Regions from separate parts of the Homo sapiens genome. Here region 2 is linked to region 1. Evidence: fine-mapped expression QTL. A gene starts in region 1. The other region holds a variant in brackets. All regions are shown on one strand. Distances are from middle to middle. Region 1 holds the start of TMEM41B (transmembrane protein 41B). Region 2 overlaps TMEM41B (transmembrane protein 41B).

Evidence for each region. PIP is the estimated chance that this variant, and not a neighbour inherited with it, causes the effect.
Region 2: its variant is the best candidate, but not a certain one, in a credible set for the expression of TMEM41B in naive CD4 T cells (Schmiedel 2018, PIP 0.75).

Annotation. Positions count from the first base shown.
Region 1 is chr11:9,312,615-9,317,993 of GRCh38, forward strand. TMEM41B (transmembrane protein 41B) reads right to left here and starts at 1,979. Exons shown (of 7, transcript NM_015012.4): 1 at 1,707-1,979. The coding sequence starts at 1,827. RefSeq lists enhancers at 1,170-1,687, 1,688-2,203 and a silencer at 1,969-2,318.
Region 2 is chr11:9,291,815-9,297,193 of GRCh38, forward strand. TMEM41B (transmembrane protein 41B) reads right to left here. Exons shown (of 7, transcript NM_015012.4): 3 at 3,445-3,573. Among named protein-coding and RNA genes, the nearest start is that of TRL-CAA5-1, 19 kb to the left of the region's middle. The variant CAAAAA/C (reference allele first, on the strand shown) is at 2,366.

The DNA.
Region 1 (5,379 bases):
ATAATTGTAGGCCAGGCGTGGTGGCTCACGCCTGTAATCCCAGCACTTTGGGAGGCCGAGGCGGGCGGATCAACAGGTCAGGAGATCGAGACCATCCTGGCTAACAAGGTGAAACCCCATCTCTACTAAAAATACAAAAATTAGCCCGGCGTGGTGGTGGGCGCCTGTAGTCCCAGCTACTCGGGAGGCTGAGGCAGGAGAATGGCGTGAACCCAGGAGGCGGAGCTTGCAGTGAGCCAAGATTGCGCCACTGCACTCCAGCCTGGGTGACAGACCGAGACTCCGTCTCAAAAAAAAAAAAAAAAAAAAGAATAATTGTGTTGAATGTTTTGTTGTAATGATAAAATAAGATTAAAAAGTAAGAGCACTTTGGAAGTTTCAAGGTTTTATTTTTTGAATAGCTTTAGGTAAAAATCATGAATACAACTGGCTGCTACCTCAAATGAGATGTCAATTTTTAGGGATGCCCTATCTGGAACACTTTTTCAGGAAACCCAGACCTTGGAATATTGTCACCCTCAGTAGTAGAGTCTTCAAAACAATCTTTCTTTTATTCAGAGCTGATTTATACATTAACAACGATTCATTTCTCAGTTTTTGAAATTATATGAAGTCACCTGGATCCAGTGTATATAAGCTGGAAAAATACCCAAAAACATAAGGCTGACAGAGCCAAATTAGACTGTTGGAGACATTTTAAATTATTTGAAAATACATTAACATTTTCTACTACATACTCTTAGAAGTTCTCCTAGCCATCACTGGTGGTGGAACACACCTATGTGAGCTACAGACAAACTTGTTAGGATCACTTTAAGTTTATGAGCTTTAAAATCATTTAAAGAACGATTCCAGGCCAACACGGAATCAAAGTATTTAGTTTCTACGTACAGTTTTTTCCTTAAAACAATATTTAAAGCCGTGAGATTCTGCAATTATAGAGGCAGTAGGAATAAAGAGAAAACAAAAACCAAAAATAAAGCCGTGAGAAATGTCAGGATGATGTAGTGGGGAAATAAACTTTAGAATGAGTGACCTTAGCTGTAACTAAGTAATTGCTAATATTTATTTAGCCCCCACTTCATATCCAAGCATTGCTCTAAATCTTTTACGTGAATTATTTCGTTTAACCCACGCACCACCTATTAAGTAGATATTATTATTATCCCCATTTCACAGTTCAGACACTGAGCTTTTTTTGAAAGTTACCAAGTCCAAGGTTCCAAGTAAACAGTAGGGCAGGGACTCAAGCCCAGGTGTACTGCCACCTGGAAGTATTAAGTCCTCGCTCCTAACTACTACTTCACTGATCTGGCTTTATGACTTTATAAGTCATATACCCACACTGGGCCTCAGTTTCTTCATCTGTAAAAACAACGCAGCGAATGCCACAGTACAGCTCCTTCCAGCTCTGCCTAGCGTCGTTATCATCAACCTTACAATCTACCTGAGCGTCAACAAGCCAGTGTCATCCCTTCTTTTAAATGAATTCTACTCAAACAGCATTTACAACGCACCTACTCGGCGTCCGGCCTTGTGCTGCGCGAGCGCCCAAGCCCAACTCCCCCACGGTCTCTGCTCCCGCCGCGGCGCCAGCAGGCCCCCCTCTTTCCCCGCGACTCTCCGAGAATAGCGGGGGTCCTTTTCCCCACCCGACACACAGAAGCCTCGGGCCACCCCCAGCTCTGCTCCCCGGGCCCACTCACCCTTCTGGTGGTCTCTGCTGCCAGGCGCCGCGAGACCCCGCGTCCCCGCTGCCCCGTCCCCCACGGGGGTCGTGTGGTGAGCGCCCAACTGCGATCGTTCGGCGACTCTGCCTTTCGCCATGGCTGCTGCAAGGTGAAGGGAGCGGTGCGGTGCCGCGCCCCCTAAACAACAAAACTCTGTTGCAGGCTCCTTACTACGCCGAAGCGCCACGGCTAGAGCCACTTCCGGCGCGACCTCCTCACCCGAGACGACCTCAGCCCAGCGAGTACTGCAACCTCCTGCAAACACCCGCAGCGCCCACCACAGGCTAAACCCCGCCCCGTGCCGCCCCCGAGCCTCGCGTGCTCGCGCCGGCCCAGTAACCGCGAGACAAGTCAGGGTCCTGGACCGCCCCCTTCAGTGCCCCGCCCCGGCCCGCCCGCGGGAAAGAGGTGGCCGCCGGGCGCTGGGGCGAGAGCATGCGCAGTCGCGGCACTCGAGTCACCCGGCTGCGACTCGCTGGCCCTGGCGTCTAAAGCGTAGCCTTAATTACCCGGAAGTGCGGTCCCAGGGACTTCAAACCTTTTGTCCAGGCCGCCGGAGGTGCCTGTGATTAGTCGGCATTTCGCGGCTGAGGCTGATTCAGCCCATTACATCAATTCCGCAGCTGCTGTCTTCAATTTGGAGGCGCCAGAGAGTGCTTGATCTAAAAGATGGTGGGAAATACAAAGGTTGAGCAAAACCTACCTGAATTTCAGGAAACTAAGGCTCAGAGAGGGCTACGTACAACCTGTGAAGATCACAGGATGGCAAAAATGGGCTTAGAATCCAGGTTGTCCTGTTCCCAAAGCTAACGGTTTTGCATTAGCTGCTGCCCCTTACTACTAAACCCAAGTCAGCTCTACATTTAGCTTATCCCTAAGCTAAGCGGAAACATGCCTTTTCCACAGGTAACTTTTTCTGCTTCTACCCCTCAGAGCACATTCAGCTTACTCACCGTGGTTACCTCTTGAAAGCAACTTAGAGGCCGGTCGCGGTGGCTCAAGCCTGTAATCCCAACACTTTGGGAGGCCAAGGCGGGCGGATCATTTGAGACCAGGAGTGTGAGGCCAGACTGGCCAAAATGGTGAGATGAGACCCCGTCTCTGCTAAAAATACAAAAATGAGCTGGACATGATGGCTTGTAATCCCAGCTACTCGAGAGTGTGAGTCAGGAGAATCGCTTGAACCCCGGAGGCTGAGGTTGCGGTGAGAAATTGCACCGCTGCACTCCAGCATAGACCACAAAGCAAGACTCCGTCCCAAAAAAAAAAAAAAAAAATCCTGATTGTTTCTATTCAGTAATTACATTTGTAGGAAATTATTCCATGAAAATAAACATAAATAATTCCTCTGTATTAGTATAACAGTGAAAAACTAAAAGCAATATAAAAATCCAACACTAAATAAAAATGGTTAAGTAAATTATGGGAAACCCATTCAATTGAACTGTTTTATGTACACATCCTTTGCCTACTTCTGGCTCCCATTTTATTTCCTTCATAGTCATTAAAAGCAATTAATTCTGTGAACTATTTGTTTACTTGTTTATTGTCTGCCTCCACCTTTAGAATATAAGCTTTAAGGCAGGGGCTTTGTCTTTTTGTTTTTTGTTTTTTTAAGTGATGGGAATCTCACTATATTGTCCAGGCTGGATCTGAACTTCTGGACTCAAGGGATCCTCAAGCATCAGCCCTCTGAGTAGCTGGGACTACAGGCTCCATGCTATGGCTCCCAGCTGGGCTTTGTCTTTTTGATCACCATTGTATCCCCGGTAGCTGACAGAGTGCCAATACCTAAGTGGCCATTCAATGAATTTGTTGAATAATTTTTTTTTTTGAGATGGTGCCCAGCCGAATAAATTTTCAATCTTAGGAAATTATATTTATGGGCCAGGTGCCATGGCTTACACCTGTAATTTCAGCACTTTGGGAGACCAAGGTGGGCGGATCACCTTGAGGTCGGGAGTTCAAGTCAAAAAAAAAAAAAAGAAAACATTTTATATATTTTACTATGCAAACATTAAAAATTGAAGTACAACAAAAACTAAAAACAAACACTGAGAAGTATTTGACACATAAGAATTACTACAAATCAGTAAGGAAAGCACAACTCAACAGAAAAATGGGCAAAGAATATGAATTATCAACACACAGAAGAAAAAATTAAATGTGCTTAAGACATCTGAGTGCGCAGTGGGAAAGCCAACTCCAAAACTTAGGAAATTCCAAAAAATTAGGAAAAGATGAACAACCTCAGTGCAGTGTGATAAGAGTGACTGAGGGGTGCGCAGATTGCAATAGCAGAAGAGAGGAATATCTAAATTACAGTGGGGCTGTAAAGTCTCCCAGGAAGCAGGATTAAAACTGATTTTTAGAGGATGAATAGGAATTAACAAAGTTGAAAGCAGAGAAAATAGCTTTTGCAAAGGCTAGAAGCTACTGCTTATATTAGAAAAAAAGCTTCAAGCAAAGGGTGGGAGAATGGAAAGAAATGCTACGAAAGATATGAGACCAGGACCTTATCACAAACTGCTAAAAGTTTGAACTTAATCCTCAAAGATATTTAACCAGAGAGGGACTTAGTAAGATTTGTATTTTTGGCCGGGCACATTGGCTCACCCCTGTAATCCCAGCACTTTGGGAGGCTGAGATGGTTGGATCACCTGAGGTCAGGAGTTCAAGACCAGTTTGAAAACCCGTCTCTACTAAAAGTACAAAAAATTAGCTGGGTGTGGCCGGGTGTGGTGGCTCACGCCTGTAATCCCAGCACTTTGGGAGGCCGAGGTGGGCGGATCACGAGGTGGGGAGATCAAGACCATCCTGGCTAATATGGTGAAACCCCGTCTCTACTAAAAATACAAAGAATTATCCGGGCGTGGTGGCAGGCGCCTGTAATCCCAGCTACTCAGGAGGCTGAGGCAGGAGAATGGTGTGAACCCAGGAGGCAGAGCTTGCACTGAGCCGAGATCGCGACACTGCACTCCAGCCTGGGTGACAGAGCAGGACTCCATCTCAAAAAAAAAAAAAAAAAAAAAAAAAAAAAAAAAAAAGCTGGGCGTGGCAGCGGGCGCCTGTAATCCCAGCTACCCGGGAGGCTGAGGTAGGAGAATCGCTTGAACCAGGGAGGTAGAGGTTCCAGTGAGCTGGGATCGTGCCATTGCACTCCAGCCAGGGCAACAAGTGTGAAACTCCGTCTCAAAAAAAAGATTTGAATTTTCAAAGCTTATTCTGACCGCCTTATGGAAGTGTGCCAAATCAACAGCAGAAAGAGAAGTTAGGAGATTACTGCAATAATCCTGGCCTGACCTAGCATAGTGTACTGGAGACAAAAAGAAGATACCAGATATAAGATTATGTATGAGAAGAACTATCTCTAAACTTTTATTACTTTAATTACATGAATATATACATAGTCATTCCAGACAAAATTTTTTTTTTTTTTGAGATGGAGTTTCACTCTTATTGCCACGCTGGAGTGCAATGGCATGATCTTGGCTCGCGGAAACCTCCGCCTCCCAGTTCAAGCGATTTTCCTGCCTCAGCCTCCCAAGTAGCTGGGATTACAGACATGTGCTACCACGCCCGGCTAATTTTGTATTTTTAGTAGAGGGGGGTTTCTCCATGTTGATCAGGCTGGTCTCGAACTCCCGAC
Region 2 (5,379 bases), 21 kb before region 1:
TCTCTGCCTCAGCCTCCCAAGTAGTTGGAATCACAGACGCCTGCCACCATAACTGGCTAATTTTTGTATTTTTAGTAGAGACAGGGTTTCACCATCTTGGTCAGGTTGGTCTTGAACTCCAGACCTCGTGATCCACCTGCCTCGGCCTCCCAAAGTACTGGAATTATAGGTGTTAGCCACCGTGCCTGGCCTCCTTTTCTTTTTAACATAAATATGATACCATTGTCAGACTTCAAGAAATTAACTATAATTCCTTATTGTCCTAAAGACTAGTCTGATCAGAATCTAGAAGTCCACACAAAGTATTTGCTCAAAGGATCACTTAAGCATAGGGTCTTTATTTTTTCTTTCTTTCAATTTACTGAAGAAACCAGATCATTTGTAGAATTTACCATTTATTGAATTTTGCCTATTGGATACTTAGGGTAGTTTATGTTCTATCCTTTATCTTATACTAGTAGTCAAAACTATGCTTCCTTTTAAATGGGAATGTGACTTGAGCTTAACTTTGTTTAGATTTCTCTTCTCTTACACTGAAAAATCTTGGTTCTTGATAACACCAACATAGTTGCCTATTTGTGCTTTATATACTATGAAACATAAAGTAAATGTATAAAATATATACTATGCATTAGTATTAATAATCTAAAACGTTTCCACATATTTAAATATTTTACAACATTATTACTACTAACAATATGATGACTAAAAACAGTTTTAAGATTTTTGGCTAGGCCTGGTGACTCACACCTGTAATCCCAGCACCTTGGGAGGCTGAGGTGGGAGGATCACTTGAGCCCAAGAGTTCCAGTTCGAGACCAGCCTGGGCAACATGATGAAATCCCATCGCTACAAAAAAATACATGAAGAGACGGGATTTCTTCATGTTGGTCAGGCTGGTCTTGAACTCCCAAACTCAGGTGATCAGCCTGCCTCGGTCTCCCAAAGTGCTGGGATTATAGGTGTGAGCCACCACACCCGGCCCTGATAATACTATTCTTAATTTTTGAGGAACTGCCATACTATTTTCCATAGTAGCTGCATCATTTTGCATTCCCACCAACAGTGCTCAAGAGTTCCAATTTCTCCACATCCTTGCCAACACTTGTTATTTTCATGATAGCCATCCTAATGAGTGTGAGGTTGCTTTTGATTCTTAAGATTCCTGCTATTCTCTTTTTTCATTTTGATTTTGTAATTATGTAAAACATTTACTTGGTTCTCAAGTCAAACCTACGCTAAGAAAAGTTTCAGTCCTACCATTTTATCTCTCTCCCTACAGGTAAACATTTTTACTGGTTTATTTATTTGAGATACAGTCTCACTGTCACCTAGGCTGGAGTGCAGAGGCTAAATGCTTCGCTGTAGCCTCAACTTCCCTGGGCTCAGGTGATCTTCCCACCTCAGCCTCCCAAGTAGCTAGGACTACAGGCATGTACCAAGACATCCAGCTAATTTTTGTATTTCTCGTAGAAACTGGGTCTAGCTACATTGCCCAAGCCAGTCTCGAACCACTGGCCTCACGCAATCCTCCTGCTGAAGCCTCCCAAAGTGCTGGGATTACAGGAATGAGCCACTACACCCGGCCAATTAGTTTTTTAAGAAAAATATAACAAGATACTTATGTATATGAGTGTACTCATATTATCCCCTTCTTAGATAAAACACAGCATATTTGTGTACTATTTTGCCCTTTGTTCTTTCACTTATCTGTATATTGTGAGTTAATACCTCAACAACATATGGATACTTCTGATTCTTTTTATTTTTGTTATTTTTATTTTTTGGGGATGGAATCTTGCTGTCACCAAGGCTGGAGTGCAGTGGCACGATCTCAGCTCACTGCAACCTCCACCTCCTGGGTTCAGGTGATCCTCCTGCCTCAGCCTCCTGAGTAGTTGGGATTACAGGCATGCAATCACCACGCCCAGCTAATTTTTGTATTTTTAGTAAAGATGGCGTTTCACTATGTTGGCCAGGCTGGTCTGAACCCCTGACCTCACGTGATTCACCCGCCTCGGGCTCCCAAAGTGCTGGTGTTGCAGGCATGAGCCACCATACCTGGCTACTTCTGATTCTTTTTAAATAGCTATATAATATCCCAGTGTTGTCAGGCGTGGCGGCTCATGACTGAAATCCCAGCACTTTGGGAGGCTGAGGAGCTCAGGAGTTCAACACCAGCCCAGACAACATAGCAAAACCTGGCATCTACAAATAAATCCCAAATTTAACTGGGTGTGCCTGTGGTTCCAGCTACTCGGGAGGCTGAGGTGGGAGGATCACTTGAGCCCAGGAGGCTGAGGCTGCAGTGAGCCATGATCATGCCACTGCACTCCAGCCTGGGTGACAGGGGGAGAACCTGTCT[CAAAAA/C]AAAAAAAAAAAAAAAAAAAAAAAAAAAAGCCGGGCACAGTGGCTCTCACCTGTAATCCCAGCACTTTGGGAGGCTGAGATGGGCAGATCACCTGAGGTCAGGGGTTCCAGACGACCCTGGCCAACATGGTGAAACTCCGTCTCTACTGAAAATACAAAAATTAACCAAGTATGGCGGCAGGCGCCTGCAATCCCAGCTACTTGGGAGGCTGAGACTGGAGAATCGCTTGAACCTAGGAGGTGGAGGTTGCAGTGACCAGAGATTGTGCCTCCAGCCTGTGTAACAAGAGCAAAACTCCATCTCAAAAAAAAAAAAAAAAAGTTGGTTTAAAAAGGATGATTACTTTTACAACATCAAGAAGTAAATTACGTCTTTCATTAACTGAGAAGATCTGGAAAACAGTTTGGATAAGAATAAAAGATATTAACAAATCAGAAATGAAAATTAAACTCCACAATATGCAAAATTAAGCACCCACAGCTAAGCAGTTTGAAATAAAGCTATTTTCCTGACTAGTTAAAATGTAATATATTTCTATAAAATATATATCAAAAATTGTAAAAAACATTCATTCCTTTGAATAAGTATCTTAAGAATTTTTACAAAAGAAACAATGCAAGAAAAAAACATGAACAAAGGAGATTCATAATACATATCTATAAAAATTAACAACAAATTATACCTCCAAACCTAACAGAACAATTATAAAAATACTATGGTGACTACTAATTCAAAATAATTATATAAACTAGTATCATCAGTTAATGAATACAATTATAAATCAAACCCATAAAATAAACATCTTAATAATATGCAATAAAGGAAAATGTTTGGTAAGTGAAAAAAGCAGAATACAAAAGAACTTCTAATAAATATTCAGACATAAAAACAATTAGTTCAGCAAATAGGATTAAAGTGATAATTTTTTTCCATTTTAATTTTTCAATTATTTAATATTGTCACACTGCAATAACAAATTTTAAAAGGAAAATAGTTATGTATAAATGAAGAGCAGACCTTTTACACTTTTTCTTGAACAAAATTAGAAAACATTTTTTCAGTTAAAAGGATACAAAATATATGTAGCAAAATAAGCTACAAGTACTTGAACATAAAAGGTGTCCTTGTATTTGGATAAAACTTTTCCTAGAGCCTTGGCATCATCCATATCTCTGGGAACCTTCATATTCACTCTTTCTTCTCTGAAGAAATAAAGTGAAAAATTTTAGAACAGAATTTTGCCAAGATAATATCAAAGTCAAGTTCACAACATGAAGTTTTATCCAAAATGATTTCATGCCTTGATCTATTAAGTCTAAATTAGCAATGTTTAAGTTTAAAAGTTTATAATTTTTCTTTTGTTTTGAGACATAGAGTCTTGCTCTGTTGCCCAGGCTGCAGTGCAGTGGTGGAATCTCAGCTCACGGCAATCTCTGCCTCCCAGGTACAAACGATTCTCCTGCCTCAGCCTTCTGAGAAGCTGGGATCACAGGCGTGCACCACCATGCCCAGCTAACTTTTGTATTTTTAGTAGAGAGGGAGTTTCACCATGTTGCCAGGCTGGTCTCAAACTCCTGTGCTCAAATGATCCTCCTGCCTCGGCCTCCCAAAGTGCTGGGATTACAGGAGTGAGCAACCGCACCTGGCCTATAAATTATTATTAATTTCATTTTATTTTTATTATTTTTTTTGACACAGTCTCACTCTGTTGCCCAGGCTGGAGTGCATTGGCGCGATCTCGGCTCAGTGCAACCTCCACCTCCTGGATTCAGGTGAGTTTCCTGCCTCAGTCTCCCAAGTAGCTGGGATTACAGGCACGTCCCACCATGCCTGACTAATTTTTGTATTTTTAGTAGAGACGGGGTTTCACCATGTTGGCCAGGCTGGTCTCAAATTCCTGACCTTAGGTGATCCACCCGCCTTGGCCTCCCAACGTGCTGGGATTACAGGAGTAAGCCACCATGCCCGGCTATAAATTATTTTTTAATGCTTTAATATAATTTCATGAGACAGGCAATTTTTTCTTTTTAATGTCTCAGCAGAATCAGAGACAGGTAATTTATATATGAAGGCTCTGGATGACGCAAACCAAGGGTTAAAGGCATTTGTTCCAACATCGAAACAAATTTTAACTTGAATATAAGAAATGAACCACTGGCCAGGCACATGGTGGCTCACGCCTGTAACCCCAGCACTTTGGGAAGCCGAGGCGGGTGGATCGCCTGACATGAGGAGTTCGAGACCAGCCTGGCAAACGTGTTGAAACCCCGTCTCTACTAAAAATACAAAAATTAGCTGGGCATGGTGGTGCATGCCTGTAATCCCAGCTACTCAGGAGGCTGGGGCAGGACAATCACTTGAACCCGGGAGGCAGAGGCTGCAGTGAGCCTCCAGCCTGGGCAACAGAGACTCCGTCTCAAAAAAAAAAAAAAAAAAAAGAAAGAAAGAAAAAAAGAACCACTGATGTTAGTAAATTAAAAACATTTAACATCATTTTGGGTAATCCTGATGATAAACTAAATAATAATTTACAATGAAAATTAAGTAAAAATGTAACAAATTCACAGTTCAAACATTTTCTTGAATACCACAGATCAAAGTCCACAAAAAACTGCAAGTTTTCCAGTACTTTTACTCTATATTTGGCACTTTGTTTGGAACTGAATGATTTCTTGCTTAGGAAAGCCTCGAATAATCACCTTTGTGTTTCATGCATATTATGATCATTTCTTTTTTTTTGTTTGTTCTATAGGCAGGCTCCCATGCTCTGTCACCCAGGCTGGATGGAGTGCAATGGCACGATCATAGCTCAATATTACCTCCATCTCCTAGGTTCAAGTGATCCTCCCACCTCAGACTACTGAGTAGCTGGGACTGCAGGCACGTGCCACTATGCTCTGCTAGTTGTTGTTTTTTTTAGATAGAGTCCTGCTCTGTCGCCCAGGTTGGAGTGCAGTGGCGTGATCTCGGCCCACTGCAAGCTCCGCCTCCCAGGTTCACGCCATTCT